Regions from separate parts of the Homo sapiens genome. Here regions 1, 2 and 4 are each linked to region 3. Evidence: fine-mapped expression QTL. A gene starts in region 3. Each other region holds a variant in brackets. All regions are shown on one strand. Distances are from middle to middle.

Region 1 (4,000 bases), 47 kb before region 3:
AAAACAAAACAAAAAGATAACGTGCAAGTAAATTAACCCCTAACTAAAAGTCTAACACTCTCACAAGAATTATGTCTTCCAGGTGCTTCATTCTAATTCCTACTGAGAAAAATTTCTGTAGCAGACAGTAGTTTACAAATATTCTGCTGCTAAAATTACAAACTTTAAAGGTAGCATGAAGTGGTGGTATGAAGGTAGTACGAAGAAAAAAAATCCCGGATTAGTAGAGTTATAGAGTCTGGTGTGACAACTCAGCATTTGGGATTTCTGGCAGAGTCCAGTTTTACATCCCTGTTAATGGCTATAACAAGAGGGTGTCGCAGAAATGCCAGCACTTCTCATCCAAACGAAATCTCGAAATGTGACAAGGCACAAAAGTCTTGCTGAACATGTCAGAAATCCTGCTGCGTTTTTTGCTGCACTTCCTCCACTGATTAGCTACATGCTCTCTGCCATCATGAAATCTCTCACACCTACACTGCACTGGAAGGAAGAAACGATGCTGCTGCTTCTCTTGCTTTAGGATAGTCTCAGCTATTGCATGCAACTGTCAATGATTCCCACTTCTCTGTGGAAGCACTTCTGCTAACAGAAACTTGTGTTGCTATTATCATTCTATTTTACACAGAAAAAAAACAGAGATACAGATGAGTTGACTGGCTTGCCCAAGATCGAGGTCCAGCCTCGAGCCCAGTCTGCCTGGCCCCAAGTCCGTGTTCCCAACTGCTCTGCCCTTCTCCATGGGAGGCCCATCCCCTCAATATGTGGTGAGTCACTGAAGTCTCCCTCAATTCTTCCTTCCCTCGCACCCACTTCAAAGTCACCAGTCTACTCTTTTGCTCAAGTATCCCCAAGTTCATTCTTCCCATTTCACTGTCACTGCTCATGAATGCAATGAGGGTTTACTTCCCTCCAACCTGGCTGGTCCCTGCCTGGCACTGAAGGGGACCTCTAAACAAGGACCTTTCAATGACCCTTGGCAGAGAGCAGCAAAGGCTCTGCAATGCCCACAAAGCCCTGAGTCTGGTCCTAATCCCCTGCACCTTCCTCCAAGCAGTCCACACATTTGGCATAACACACTTTATTAGCCCCTGGATGCGGAAGTTCCCATACCTTCTCACAGGAGTCAATTCTGCAACTTCTGGGAATTTCGTTAGCCAGTTTACTTTTTGTTGGTGGCTTGAAGTCAGTCATAGTGGGAAGCTGACAAAGGCTACAAATCAAACCTCTTGCCCCTGGAGAGCCAGTTGTTAAGCACTGACCAGGAGGCCATCACCTGGATACTCTCCCCTCATTCTTTGTTTTCTTTTTCTTTTTCTTTTTTTGAGATGGAGTCTCCCTCTGTCACCCAGGCTGGAGTGCAGTGGTGTGATCTCAGTTCACTGCAACCTCTGCTTCCTGGGTTCAAGCAATTCTCCTGCCTCAGCCTCCCAAGTAGCTGGGACCACAGGCACGTCCCACCACGCCCGGCTAATTTTTTGTATTTTTAGTAGAGATGGGATTTCACCGTGTTAGCCAGCATGGTCTCTATCTCTTGACCTTGTGATCTGCCCACCTCGGCCTCCCAAAGTGCTGGGACTACTGGCGTGAGCCATCGCGCCCGGCCCATTCTTTAAGCTCCACCTAAAACATCACATCACTTGTGAACCAATGTAATGTCAACAGCCCTGTGTGCATATCTGTTATAACACCCCACTGAGTTCTGTGACACATCATGTGCTCATCTCCCTGGGTCCCTCGGAGGCCCCATGCTAAAGGCTACGCCTGCTGATCCATGTGTCCCACCTCATGATGGGCCCAGCGAGCACATGGGGGCATCTAGGAAGTGCTGACGGGGTGAGGAAGCATGTGAACACATACCTGTGTGCCTGCTCTCACTGAGTCACAGAGATGTGCACATGAAAGCACTTCCAATTCATTAGCACTGCCATATCTTCAAATGCAGCTTAAACAGCAAAGTATATTTGTTTCACAAGAAAAAAAATTTCTGATGTTCTTAGGAACTTTACAACACAAATATATACTAAATTTCTGCTTACTTTTGGGACTATGAGTATTTAGATTTAAGGGGTGTCGAGGTATTTCTTTTTTGAGACGGAGTTTCACTCTTGTCGCCCACGCTGGAGTGCAATGGCACGATCTCGGCTCACTGCAACCTCCACCTCCCGGGTTCAAGCAAATCCCCTGCCTTAGCCTCCCGAGTAGCTGTGACTACAGGTACCTGCCACCACACCTGGCCAATTTTTGTATTTTTAGTAAAGACAGCGTTTCACCATGCTGGCCAGGCTGGTCTCGAACTCCTGACCTCAGGTGATCCACCTGACT[T/C]GGCCTCCCAAAGTGGCTGGGATTACAGGTGTGGGCCACCGCGCCCGGCCAGGGGTGTCAAGGTATTTCTTGTTGGGATAATCTAGAAGACAAAGACAACTGTCAGCTCACTGGAGAAAGCTGGCCCTATATCCTGAGGCTGACATGGCGGAACTTCAGGCGGTGTGCTTGGACTTCCACTCTCAGGGATCCGGGAAGGCTCTCAGCTGCTCTGTTCTAACCCCATCTGCTTGAGTCACCTCAAAATTCACGTGAATAAGCGGGAGGCAGCAATCCAGCATCAGCCAGCAGGTCAGGAGACCAGGTCTTTACCTTAAGCAGCCTTAGACCAATTTGGCTGACTGAGTCCGGCATCTACAAATGCAGCTCAGTTAACTGAGCTGGTAAAGTGCTCTTTCTACTGGTTTCAAGTAACATTCCCAGAAAGGTAAAACTCCTCTGGCCAACTCCTACAAGGGAACCTGACCCTCCTCGAGGCTAGAAGCAGGGCACAGGGTCCAGAAGCCAAGATCCTCACAGAGGCACATGCCAAGCTGCGTGCTCCAGAGAGCACCCAGGGACTCAGGTGAAGAGATGCCAGGCAGCATGCAACCACTAATGAAAGAGAAGAAACAAGTTCAAGGTCTCTGATGGTAAGATTTGAGTGGACATGACGAAAACTGGCACCTTTGTGTTATCATCAGCGCTTTCTTATTCCCCAAAGATTAAACATTAATTTCATTTTTGTACCTTATTTTTCCCACTTGATCAAAATGGCACTACAGTAACACCTATCCTTCTGTGCTGAGGCAGAGAGGTATTGCCACGTAAGTGTGCTCTGCCTACCAGGGCTGTAAGAACCATCCCGGGCCAAAAGCAGAGTGTCTTCCTTCACTGGCTATGGTCAGCACTGAGTGGGGCAAGCTGGGGCCACATGCACTATTATCCCTCAGCCCGTGCCTCTCCCAGGTAGTATGAATGGAAAGAAGATCCAGAAGGAAGCTCAGCATACAGCCATGCCTTCCTGCTCTGTCTCGGCCCACCCAGTCAAAGATGCAAGCTTGTCCCTTGCTTTCTCCTTTCTCTCCTCTTGGTGAGGTGTGGCCCAATCCTTGGAGCTTCGCTGTTGTCTCCACCGGTGCACATCTCTCCACTGGCTCCACATCTCTCTCCAAAGAATGCAGAGCCACTAATCCTACCTGGAACTTCCCAGCCAGACAAGAAAGGCTGCTTCCTGGTCTGGTGTTTGGCCTTTCCCAAACACCCCCTTCCTTGGGATCCTGACCATGAAAACCCACCATGGACAAGGACACACCCTATTCTCTCCCCAGAAGGTCACCTGCTGAACATCACTACCACGGATCTGCCTCATCAGGAGAAAGGGGACTTTGGCCATGTGGCCTCGCCACTCATGTTAGGACTTCTACAGCAAGCCCCATGCCATGCATAAGTGTCTTACAGATGGACTTTTAGCACAACCCACCTATGCATGGGGAACGCAGTAAAAGAGGCAGCGAAGAGCCAGCCTGTGCAAAGCTTTGAATGACTGTAGGGTCACACCAAGACAACAACAGAACAAAGAATCCAACGTTTATAACAAACTTGCTTAACTCTTACTGACGCTGAATGTTACATTATTAAGGATAATTTCAGACTCATAACTAGGCAATCATCACTCTTTTTGTAAATCCCATAT
Region 2 (4,212 bases), 62 kb before region 3:
ACCTGCCCAGCTCCCACAGCTTGTCCCTCGAACGCACCTGCAGGAGGCTGTGACCCATGCAGTGGCAATGCGGCTAGCTGTGTCCATGGCCTGTGGAAATATGCCAGCCCAGCAGAACAGCTGGAATCCTACACTATTAATATGGTTATGTTTTCCAAGCAAGTACTGCTCAATTTATACAAGTTAAATGCACATCTGTGATTTGATAGCACAGCTGAGAACTGTTATAACATCTAACAATTAAATGACAGTAACAGTATATGACAAATTAGGGGAAAGAACCACAACTTCAAAAGGATAGTTTCCTTTTAAGAAGAAACTAACATGAAAAAAGACTGACATCCACCCCAAAAAACAGGCAAATACCACATTAAGTAATTTACCAAAAACAAGAAAAGCAAATGGATAATAAATATATGGAAATATTCAAGCTCACAATTTATCATACATCAAATTCTTCACTTATTAAAACAGCACCAACAGAAAAAGAAATACCTGTGCTTCAGGGATAATGGAAACTCAATGTACTTACTCCCTTTCCTAGATTAGAACAATTTCTTTTCTCAGCTGGACGTGGTGGCTCATGCCTGTAATCCCAGCACTTTGGGAAGCTGAGGCAGGTGGATTGCTTGAGCTCAAACTCCTGAGACCAGCCTGGGCAACATGGTGAAACCCCATCTCTACTAAAAATACAAAAAAACAGCTGAGCATGGTGGTATATGCCTGTGGTCCTGACTGCTTGGGAGGCTGAGGTGGGAGGATCACTGGAGGGTGAGGTGGGAGGATCACTTGAGCCTGGGGGACAGAGGTTGCAGTAAGCCGACATCATACCCCTGCACTCCAGCCTGGGTGACAGAGCAAGACCCTGTCTCAAAAACAAACTCCAAAAAAATTTTTTTTCATGAACAATCTAGAAATATATTTAAAAGCCTTAAAATATGTTTGACTCATGATGTTGGCTGTACTACCAGTGGTTGTAAGGAGACGGCCACATTGTTGTGTGACGATGCTTATCATAGTTATTGATGCTAACGGCGAGACACTCAGGAACCCCAATATGTTGTGATGAAAAAGCCTGTTCCATCTGGGTGATTCTGTGGAGCTAATAAAAGCCAAGTTTCCAAATAACATTTAGGATATGGTTCTACGTTTCTAAAAAAAGGCAGGGTCGGGACGGGGGGCGTTGTGAAGTAACAGTGGTATACGGGACATTTATGGTCTTATGAAAAACTAACATATATTCGCAGAGGCCCCAGGTATTTGCATCGCCTCAGGAGAAACTATAATTTGACAAATAAATGCATTCTTGGCCATTTGTGTCAGTTCACAGAAGTGGGGCTGAAAAATCCAGAATCTTTTTTTAGTCCTATTTATAACGCCATAAAAGTATACTTTTATTATTATGCTTAAAGGAAAAAGTAGAAATGATTTGCTTGGGCTCCTTGACCCTATTCAAAAATGGAAATATACAACAATACGTTTCTATCCTATGCCTGCTGAGGGGATTTTTCATACTCTTTTCAGCATGCACAATAATCTTTGGGTGGTGGGACTGATTTTCTAATTTTCTAAAATGGACATGCGTTATTTTAAAAACGAAGCAATCTTTTAAGGATTTAAGTATCAAAATCACTAACATTTCTCAGTAGGATGCAAAACTGATGAAGTTTAAATCAATAGATAAACATGATTTATTACTTTGTCTATTAAAGTAGTTTCAACACAATTGAAGTTTAGACTGCACTGGGCTGTTCCCATCACAGTCCAGGATTATGCACAGACCAGCCCCCAACCCCAGCAGGGGTGCCCTGCCAGAACCTGTGCTGGATGCCTAGGAGCACAGAGACCACTGCCCGTTGTTGGGCTGCGTGTGCACA[C/A]TTCATACCCCGATCCATAATCCCTAAGACAAGAATGGCTGTCATTGCCCTGGGTTCACTTTCTATTCAAAGAGGACTCATTTGGGCACAGCCAATGTAGTAGTTAAAATGCATTTTGAGAAAAAATAAATATTCTGTACAATGTATTTACAAGGATCAAATGTTTTGTAACCCACCCCCAATTAGTTTCCCAATTGGGAAACTATAATTTGATAATTAAGAAGCATATTATTGGCCGTTAGTGTCACGTCAACAAAGAATGTGGAGCTGACCACCTAAAGTATTTTTGAACTATATATATAGAGAGAGAGAGTACGCAAAATTTCACATTTTAATATGCTTAGAAGGAGTTTTTAAAGAAGTAGAAATGATTTCCTTGGCCTCTGACTTTCAGTGATGAAAATGCAACCATGCAGTCCCCCCTTTGCAGAAGGGCAGTTCTTCCCAGGCTTTCTGGAAGCAGGGGCTTCCGAGGAGTCTCCACCCACCTCACAGAACACTCACTATGAGCCCTGCACAGACAGCAGGATTCACAATCTCCAATAGGGATGGCAGGGGCAGCCCTTAAAACTTGAAGAGGTCGATGAAGTGCTGCGGAGACACAGGCGTGAAGCAGCTGTCAGGGTCGGCCGCCGTGCAGGGGTGTCCTGAGTCCTGTGGGGAGGTGGGAGATGGTTAGGAGGGGGCCCCACCACCAGCCACACTCTAGTGATGGTGCTTGAGGGGTCGTCAGCTGCTTGTTGATGTGGACCCTGGGCCCCACCTCAGAGGTACATGGGAGATAACTTGGATGAGAATGACCAACACAAGGGCAGCCGCAGCCGATTCTACATAGAGGTTTCCCATGGAACTCCTGCTCAGGTAGGGCAGGAGACGGTGGCCCCAGGTCTGCCCTCCAGTGCCGAATCTGGTACTGAGTCAGAGGAGCCAGCTGCTGACACCACCCTGCACTGCCCCGGAATCTACAAGGCCACAGAAGAAACCACTGGGGACTTTCTGTCCTCTGGTCCCAGCCATTCCTTTGTCCTGTCCTCCTGTTCCTGGCTCACTTTGTTACACAGGGTTCCCTCCACCCGCCATTCATCCCTGAATCAGCTTGGGCTCCCTGCATAGGACAGGAGAGGGGGACACACGGCCTCAGCCCCCAAGGCTCCTGCTTGCTCCAAGGGAGCTGGCCATGCTCACATACCTAAGGATCCAGAATTATATTTAATATGAGAAGTGACGACAGAAAAATTAATTTTGTGGATGAAGACTGGCAGACTCTTAGGAGGAACGCAGGTAAACGGGACCAGAGGCTCTGGGGTCAGTGCTGGATCTCTCCATGGCATGCCCTGGCAGTGCTGCCAAACCAGGTGCTGTGTGGTGAAGTGTTTATGCGCACATCTAGCAGCCTCCCTCAGCACTCAGGTGTTGTTCTGCAAAATATTTCATCAACACTCTCGTCCTTGCTGAGGTGTTTGATCAAAGTGGCCACTCAGCCCTGCTCAGGGTCCTGAGAAAGCTCAAGTCAGCGAGAGCTGGAATCGAGCCGGGCAGTGGCCAAGATGACGTGCATGAGATGCAGCACGATGCAACGTTTTCATCCCGAACACAGGATGTGTGGCAAGACAGGGAAGTACCTTGAATAGTAAAGCAAGATGGTAGTCCTTCGAGATCATGAAGAAAGAATCAGGAAGGAATGCAGTGAAGGGAGGGAAAAAAAGGAAAAGTTAAGATTAGAAAGAGCCAGAGTGTATCTAAGCATTCAGGTTTGATTCATATTATTTACGAAAATAACTAAAAACATCAGGTAACTAAATTTGGACAGTACAAGGTTATTAAAAGCAAACAAGTTCTCATCAGATAACCCAAAAATTCCCAAACTACTTGAAGACAGTCTTAAGACAACATATCTCTACCTTTAAGTCTTTCAAATTTGGCAACTAATGAGGCTGCAGTGCTAAATAACCTTTAAAATTATTCACTGAAGAAGAGATGCTATTTCCATGTGCAGTTTATATTAAAACTTTATAACAGATTTTTTTGGGGAAAGTTCTTTGTTCTTCATTTAACATCCGAAGGCTCTGCTCTGTGCTCAGTAATGCACATTAAGTCAATTCCACACATGCCCTTAAGCCAGCCTCCACCTCTGACACTTGTTCCTCCAGGCCAGTGAATGCCACTTTCCAACACAGACCCAAGCCTCAGCAGCTGCCCTCCTGTGCTGTTCTCCCCCGCTGGTTCAGGATGCTACTAGCAAAGCGGTTCCCCTGCAAGACCAGGACCACCAGACCATGGACACCTCATCTTGGATTCTGGCTCCAACTTTGCTCCTGATGTCCACACAGGCCTG
Region 3 (4,219 bases):
TGGATCACAATGAAGTTTTTCTTAAAGCATAATCTATACAGCTCATGAACTAAAGCACAAACTCTGGATGCAGATTAAAAACAACACCACCAACAAAAAAAGACAAGTTGCAATTTAAAACGTCTGGGGTCTGGATCTCAAGTTTTCAAAAATACTCCCAAACTGAGGCTTCTGAGTTTGCAAATCAGAAAACAATGCTACTAAAGTTTTATAGAATGATGATGACCCACGGCTTTCAATGGGAATGTATTTGTTCAGCTAAAAAATGTGAATTGCTAGAGCTTTATACGCTTATTTTAATTAAAATTACCTTTATTTTGGGAATTTACAAACACAAAAAAACTAGAAATTACTCCTGAAAATTATTAAACTTTTAAGAGCAAGCACTCAAAGGGTGTAGCTTGTATAATTTGCAAATTTTAAGCACATTTTATGCCAACTTATTTCAGACAGCCTACAATGATTAACTATTTAAAATCTTCCCTTAATTTCTATTTCATGTGGTAGGACACGTGGGTGGGATACTTCAGTAGAAAAGGACTTCATGAAGTTCATTTGCTGGTGGAAACTCTTGGCATGAGAGACTCAGAACAAAAAAAAATGTCTTTCCTTCAACAAGCATATTTTTTCTTAACAATAATAATGGCAAACATTTATTAGAGCTTACCATAGGCTACGCATTACTCTAAACAATCTACATATGTTGTCTCATTTAATCCTCACACTGTCCTCCAAGGTAGAAAACATTATTCTTGTTTTACAAGTTTCATTATGTATTTTAAAGATGAAGACACTGAGGCAAAGAGTTCAGTGGAGCTGGGATTCAAAATGATGGAGTCTCACTCCAGGATCCATGCTCCTAACCACTATGTTTATAATAGCAGTTCCTGAAAACCCTATTAAAACAGATGCCATTAAATTATAAGCTTTTTAACTTTTTTTTTTTTTACCGTCTATTACAGATCACTAATATGATTTCAAGTAATGATGAACCTAAATACAAAGGCACTAAAACAAGGAATACAACACAGGAAAGAAAACTCCAATCCATCTTAAAAGACCACATGTGTTTCCCTATTTGTTTTGCTTATAAGTGTGGACAAATTTGATCCAGAAAGGACATTTTAAAAAATGGCAAACTGAGGGCTGAGAGTCAGAAATAAGTTGTACTCTAAGGACTTACAGATAATCACAGATTCCTCATGGGAAAGGTAAACACGTAAAGACGAGGAGAAAACAGAATATGAAAGAGTAAACGTCTTTTCTGATTAGGGCCGGATGGTAAGGATTTGGAGGCAGCAAGAGACAGCTTCATAAGGGAAGAAATGGTTCTCTAGATTCTTTAGTCTTCAAAATGAGTTTGAATAGGCCCAAGGACAGAGGTGGAATCTAATTGAGAAAAAGGTCAAATTGAGCTTACTGTGAGGGGAAGGATGCAAAATTAGTGTCTGCTGCAAGAAAAATAAGCATGGAAAGAAATTAAGGGAGGAGACAGAGACAGAGCCAGAGCCACAGACCAGGAGTAGGGAAAAAAAGGTAAGCAGCAGACGGGGCAGAGTGGCCTGGAGGAATGAGGGGTCACACCTAGCAGGTGCCCACCGGCGAAGAGGCAAGGACCGAGCCCGGAGGGCAAACGCCGGCAGGAGTCGTCCCCGAAACACCTTGCCCAGCGAGGCGGACACAAGCTCGGGCCTGCAAGACGGCCCAGGAGGGTGGGGGCGGGAAGGGGTCGCAGAAGGTGGGCAGGGGAAGCGGCTGAGGACGCGCGGTGCACCTGTGGGCGGCCCCCGTGCCCACCCGACTCGCCCGCAGCTCCCTGAATGAACCCTCCACACCCGCCGGCCGCCCCCAGACCCCACCTGACGCGCCCGCGGCCCATCGTCCCTACCTGACGCGCCCGCGGACCCAGACTTCAGCAGACGCGCACGCGGCAATCCCGTCCCCACCTGACGCGCCCGCGACAACCCCGTCCCCACCTGACGCGCCCGAGGCCCCCGGTCCCCACCTGACCCTCCCACAGGCCCCGTCCCCACCTGACGCGCTCGCGACCCCATGTCTTCCCCTGACGCGCCCGCCGCCCCCGGTCTTCACCTGACTCGCCCGTGGCCCGTCGTCCCCACCTGACGCGCCCGCGAGCCCCAATCTTCACCTAACGCGCCTGCGGCGCCAAGTCTTCACCTGACGCGCCCGCTGCACCCCGCACCTACCTAGCGCGCCTGCGGCCCCCAGTCTTCACCTGACGCGCCCGCGTCCCCCAGTGCCCAACGGGCGCGCCGGCCACCTGGGCCCGCACCTGACGGCGACCAGGCGGTTATTGCCGGAAGTGGGCCGCCGCCTCCCGGCGCGCCTCAGGGAAGCCCCGCCCCTGGCCATGCTGATTGGCCGGCGCGGATCCGCGTGGCAATGTTGCTGCCTGGTCCTGTCGCCCGCAGCGTGCGCCTGCGTAGTAGGCACTGCCCCTCCGTCCGCGCGCGTCCAGAGTGCCGGGCGTGGAGGCGTGGGGGCGTGGGGGCGTGGGGTGGGGCTCGGGTGCGCAGGGACGGGCGCGGTCAGTGCCTGAGATCCCTGCGATCGCTGGGAGATGACGGTGAAGACCTGAGATTTAGGCCTGCGCGGCGGGTGACGACGCCGGTCCGGGTCTTCACGGGAGGACGCTGGCCGGGGCCTTCAGGTGTTCTCGTGGCCTGAGGACGCGCGTCCCTGAGAATGTGCGTGCCCGCGCCGCGCGGGTCCCACAGGAGCCTGGGCAGCCCCGCCGCCGCATTTCCACCCTGCGGCCGTATTTCCACCCGCTGGGCGCCAAGCCCGGGATGACTGCACTCTAGGGCATCACTGCGCGCTCACACTCAGCATTCGGGCACAAGCACGTTCTCTTTATAAACAGTTTCGAATCTTGTCGAATCTTTCTAGAAGGTTGAAATGCCCTGGAGGAGCAGCGTGAATAGTTTTTTCCAATTAGGAAAAAAGAATGTGGGGCGGCTGGAGGGAGAGAGGCAGGCCGAGAAGGCCAGGTGGGTCCAGGAGCCGCAGCCCCCGTGCCTCAGTTTCCGCCTAGAAACATGGAGGTGGCGGTGCACGCTACAGGATTTCCATAAGAACAAATGAGTTAGCGTGTGCAAAACATTTAAAACAGTGTCTGGTGTGTAGCAAGCAAATATGAGTATTAGTCTTTTCCTTGTTAAAATGTGTGCATCTACATGTGGTGCACATTACAGGAAGTGTATAGTATGGATTCATATTTTGGAAAAGTAATTTTAGAAGTTATTTCTGAAGTGCTTATTATAATAGTGTTTCTTGACCACATGCTTTTAAATAATGTGAAGGCAATGAAGTAGGCAATATTGCTTGCACATCCCCAATTTAAACACCTGTCTGTCCCTCCTTCCCTCTCTCCGTTCTTTTCTTCCTTTCCCTCTCTCTTTATTCCTTCCTTCATTCCCTTCAAGGTTGCGGATTATTCTATTATATAAATGTATCAATTTATTAGAATAGTTTCTATGATGTCTATGATAGGTTTTAAATTGTTTGCAATAGTTTGCCATTATAAATAATGCCCAGTAGCGCTGTGGTCTGATTTAACTTGTGAAGGTATATTTCCAAATAAATCGCTATGATTGGATTGTTGTGTAAAGCAAAAAGTGTCTGAGGCAGATCACAACTGATTTAGAGGTTTATTCTGCCAAAATCGTGGACGTGTCTGGGGAAAAAGAAACACAGGTTACAGTAGGATTTTTGGCCTGTACTTTTTTCCAAATATTTAAGGGAAAAGCGCCGGTAGGAGGGGAAAGAGGGGAGAGTAGGCTATGAGGCAAGTGGTCACATTTTTGTGAGGCTCTGATTAGAGTACAGCAAATCTACATTTCACATGTGAAAAGAAAGGTATGGGGGAGGGTTATGCATCTGTCTCATACTCAGTAGATCTACATTTCACATAAGATAAAGTAAGCTTTTGGGAACAAAAAGAAGACTGCGTGTGTGTGTGTGTGTGTGTGTGTGTGTGTGTGTGTGTGTTTTGCCAATATTAACTTTTCCCTTTGGCATAGTAAGTTTGGAGGCCTGAAATTTTATTTTTCTTTCACTGATGTGTCAAGGTTAACTGCATATGGAATACTAGTAGAAATTGCCAAGCCAAGACCCCACCACCACAATGGGGGACATAGTAATATTAAATTTAGCCCAATTGGCTAGCATCCTCACAATTCCTAGTGAAAGAATTCCT
Region 4 (4,219 bases), 59 kb after region 3:
CCATCTACTACCTGTCTACCTGCCTATCTACCTTCCTACCTGCTTTCCTATCTACCTACCTACCTGTCTACCTGCCTATCTACCTACCTACCTGCTTTCCTATCTACCTACCTACCTGTGTACCTGACTATCTACCTACCTACCTGCCTGCCTTCTTATTTACCTACCTACTTACCTGCCTGCCTATCTACCTACTTACCTCCCTGCCTGCCATCTAGCCACCTACCTACCTACTTACCTATCTACCTGCCTACCATCTAGCCACCTACCTATCTACCTGCTACCTACTTATCTACCTGCTTACATATCTAGCCACCTACCTATATACCCACCTAGCTAACTACCTATCTACCTACCTGCCTACCTGCCTATCTACCTCCCTACCTGCCTATCTATCTACCTATCTACCTACTTATGTACCTACCTGCCTACCTATCTACCTACCTACCTGCCTACGTGCCTGCCTACTTGCCTGCTTACTTATCTGTCTACCCATCTAGCCACCTACCTATCCACCTGCCTACCTACTTACTTACCTATCTACCTGCCTACCTAATTAGTAAAATAGAATTCAGTTTATTTTATTTCTGAATGGCTAACCACATATCCCCAAACTACTGAGCCATCCGTTGCCCCTCCAGTGATTAGAACTGATGTTTTATCTCGTACTCAATTCCTTCATGCACTTGGGAGTGTTTCTTTGATGCCTGTTAACTGAATCCATTCAGAGATCCTAGGCCATCCCTAAATCCACATGGGATGCTTCGCTGGAGGCCATGTCCTTACTCACAGCTTCCCCCTCCTTTGCCCCATCATGGCCCTTCCTCTGCTGGGCTCCCTGCAGCTCATGAAGAAGCCGCCCCTGCAGGTTGGGTCTTCCCTCCATGGGCTCTGCATAGCTTCTCTCTGTCCCTGTCCCATCCAGCCTCAGGCATCAGGGCAGAGGCCTCCGAGCCTGGAGGATGTGGACGGAGGGGCCGGTGCCCTCGTGGCTCCCTGCTAGGACCCCTTGTCGCAGTCCCGGCTCAGTGCTCCGGAGGAACGTCCCTCGTGGCCTCTCCAGGTGATGTCGTCTTGTGGGTTCTGTTGTATGGAGGCGCCTGTGGCTTAGTGAGGGCCACAGGACACCTCCTCTCTCTGGCCTTGTGTGAGGTTGGTGCCCTGACCTGGGAAGACCAGCACCCACTGGTCTGGGTCCTCCAGGCACCGCGTCCCCACGCTTCTGCTCTGCGTCTGACTCATGTGGGAAAACATAGTTCTCTCAACCCTCTTCCCTAAAATGACATATCTCTCCAAAGCCTTCTGGCTCCTTCTGCAAATGGATTTCTGACAAACCCAGAATTGTCTTCAATCGACACTGAGCAGGCTTCAAGCCCAAGCTGGATCCCTCCCCTCCTTTGGTCTGCACATTGCAGACACACTACAAAACGCATATCTCAGAGAAGTTGACATAATGCAATATATTTGCACACACTGAATTCTCCATGATAGTGCTTAAAGTTTTCATGATATGAATTTGGCATCATGATTATTGGCAATGCTCAAAATGGATGTTTCATTTCAGATTGTACCATACAGATCGGTGACTGAAAGTGTCTCATTCAGTGCAGTGGTGGGACTGAGCTAAGCAAAGGAGAGTTAAGAGGACTATGTGTCCAAATTGGAACAATTGTGTGGATCAAAGGAAAGGTGTCCTAGTTCAAGCTGTGGAGACATTAAAAATGGAACACACAGAAGCTCTCCTACTAAAATTATATTTAAATTATTAATACATTATTAAACCGAATTAACACATTATGATTACACTTGGATTTTAAACAGATAAAGAAAAGTTTTAAATGTCTCATGGCTACAACTTAATGTAGCTAGGACCACACTTCACGCATAGCTCCTGAACTCTGCCCAGTGTTTTTTCCTGGAAATATATTACCTCTGTATCACTCTCATCTAGTGATAATAAAAATAACTAGAATTATTTGATAAGAGATTAGTGTGTTGGA[G/C]TCTGATAAATTAATGTTAACACACTCTGGTAAATTTGAAATAACGATTTTGTTCCTAGGAAGCTGTATTGAGAAACTGTTGAATGAAGCACTTCCTTCATTGTATCCCACGGAACACCAGCCCCATGAAATGCTTTGGGGAAAAACGTGAAAGGCCCTTGTGGCCGGGGACACCTGGTGACTGCCTACTGAGTGTCCTCATGGGTCCCTGCACATGAACACAGCGGATGCCTTCAGAAGTCCTGAAATAGTGTTATCTCACTCGGCGGTACCCAAACTCAACTGACTGTAGAAAATATTGCTTTAATATCTATTAAGCATCTATAAATTAATATTTTTAAAATCCCACTTTTATCAAGTCTGCTTCATCTTCTAAGTCTGCAGGAATGAGAGAGACCGACACCAGCTCGAGCTCCAGGCGACCCCACATTCACAGACTTCATTAGCGCTGGTCCCTGGGCTGGGCTCTGGGTTCAATTCCTCCTGATGAGATTGGCAGACACAAACTGACTTTATTCAGACAGGTTTTGTATGTAGGCACTGCTTTTTTAGGCATAATTGTGATTACTACTTTTCACATTTTAAATCTTGGTTTTCATATGGAATCAGTGATGTGTATTGTCATGTACGTGAAAGAACAGGCACAGATGTTTGTTTTGGTATTCAAGTTTTCTGTATTTCTTTCAAATGCTTCAATTTTCAAATATGATCGATAAACATAGGAATTAAAAGAGTAGACAGTGACTCAATAAAAGGACAGTCTTTTTTTTCTTTCTAGAATAATTTTCTAACAGATTTACCAGAATCATATGAATTATATAAGAAATATTTATTTTCATTTTAAAAGATGTCTGGCTATAAAATAGGAAAGCCAAACATGCTTGGCTATATAAACAAAGCGTACTTAGATTCAAATTTGTAACATTTCTTTTAAAGAAGTACCAAGCGAGGCTGTCTGCCTTGAGCCAATGGACTGGAGAATCTGTCCCTCTTCTCTTTTTTCCCCATCATCTCATTCCTCTGAATGCACCCTTGTTTGCCACTGGAGACTTAGTTCTGTTTCTCAGATGGAGTTTCCTCTGGCTCCAGATGCGTCAGGCATGCTTGGCAGGGCTGCGAGGCTCATCCTCCTAGTGGGGAAGGCCGGGCCAGGAGGCAACCAAGCACCCGCCTGTCTCTGATGTTCCCGCATGTTGCTGGCTGTCCAGGGGCCAGGGCTGCTCTCTGGGGCATCACTGTTCTCTTGCCTGAACTTCAGTCAAGAAACTTGTATCAGTCCCGATGTCAACGCACACAGACCGCGTGGTGATGGAGGCAGTTCTCCATAGGAAAGGGTAATCAACACAGCGGATCCGACGGTGGCTGGGTCACAGAGGCACGGGCTGTCTTCAGGCTCCCGCCCGAGGGCCGCCTCGGACGCTCCTCCCCGGGGTGGATTTGCCCCAAGCTCTTGAAGCTGGAGCTCTGAGCCCCTCACCTTCAGGGGCTGTGCCTGTGTTGTTTTGCTGAATTCTTCTTCTTCTTTCTTTGCATTTTATTATGTATTTATTTTTTATTTGTATAAATGTAGGGGGTGCAAGTGCAGTTACTTGCACATATTGCACAGCGATGAAGTCTCCGGTGTCACCATCACGCAAATAATGAACATTCTACCCTTAAGTAATCCTCCCCCTCACCTCCCCACCCTCCTCCCCTTCTGAGCCTCCAATGACTGTTATTCCATGCTCTGCGTCTCCAGGCTCACATTATCTAACTGGCACGCAAGAGTGAGGACGTGTGAATTCTTAAAGAGGCTCCTGCCCTGGCTCAGCCCCCAGCCCCACAGAGCCTGGATCCACCCTCTTCCCAGCTCTGCGACTGCCTGTGGTGAGGGAGACCCACAGTTCCCTTCCAGGCGGTTCGGTTCTGTGAATTCCCTAAACAACTCCACGTCTTCCGTCTTCCGGGAGAGAGTGTGTTATCGTGCCCCTGGAATCCACGCACAGCTCATTTATCAGCTACTGCTGAAACCCTGTCCTGTGAGGCTCAAACCCAAGCTGCAGATGACCTGGTGGAATGTGAGCCTCGGCTGTGGGGTGATTTCACTTAATTTCTCCTTAAATTGAAAGATTTCACTATCACCCACCAGCAACGGGCAGCACCTAAAGTAGGTCATCCATGCGGAGGACACTGGTGATCAAGACAAACTTGATCTGGGATGTAAGATAAAGCTCCTTGCC

Direction of the effects. Alleles are on the strand shown, and positions count from the first base shown. SD is a standard deviation of normalised expression in the study named. Not every link is listed here.
With allele C in place of T in region 1, the expression in fibroblasts of the gene that starts at base 2,316 in region 3 is lower (small effect, 0.20 SD a copy in GTEx).
In carriers of allele C in region 2, the expression in unexposed skin of the gene that starts at base 2,316 in region 3 tends to be higher than with A alone (small effect, 0.27 SD a copy in GTEx).

Evidence for each region. PIP is the estimated chance that this variant, and not a neighbour inherited with it, causes the effect.
Region 1: its variant is the best candidate, but not a certain one, in a credible set for the expression of FBXO25 in fibroblasts (GTEx, PIP 0.63).
Region 2: its variant is the best candidate, but not a certain one, in a credible set for the expression of FBXO25 in unexposed skin (GTEx, PIP 0.78).
Region 4: its variant is the best candidate, but not a certain one, in a credible set for the expression of FBXO25 in whole blood (TOPMed, PIP 0.67).

What each region holds. Positions count from the first base shown.
Region 1 is chr8:452,216-456,215 of GRCh38, reverse strand. All of the region lies in intron 7 of FBXO25 (F-box protein 25), which reads right to left. Among named protein-coding and RNA genes, the nearest start is that of FBXO25, 47 kb to the right of the region's middle. The variant T/C (reference allele first, on the strand shown) is at 2,326.
Region 2 is chr8:467,034-471,245 of GRCh38, reverse strand. FBXO25 (F-box protein 25) reads right to left here. Exons shown (of 10, transcript NM_183420.2): 10 at 1-2,531. The coding sequence ends at 2,442. Among named protein-coding and RNA genes, the nearest start is that of FBXO25, 62 kb to the right of the region's middle. The variant C/A (reference allele first, on the strand shown) is at 1,878.
Region 3 is chr8:405,055-409,273 of GRCh38, reverse strand. It overlaps FBXO25 (F-box protein 25), which reads right to left and starts at 2,316. Exons shown (of 10, transcript NM_183420.2): 1 at 2,208-2,316. RefSeq lists a silencer at 2,184-2,593.
Region 4 is chr8:346,520-350,738 of GRCh38, reverse strand. No RefSeq gene overlaps it. Among named protein-coding and RNA genes, the nearest start is that of FAM87A, 35 kb to the left of the region's middle. RefSeq lists an enhancer at 479-1,012. The variant G/C (reference allele first, on the strand shown) is at 2,001.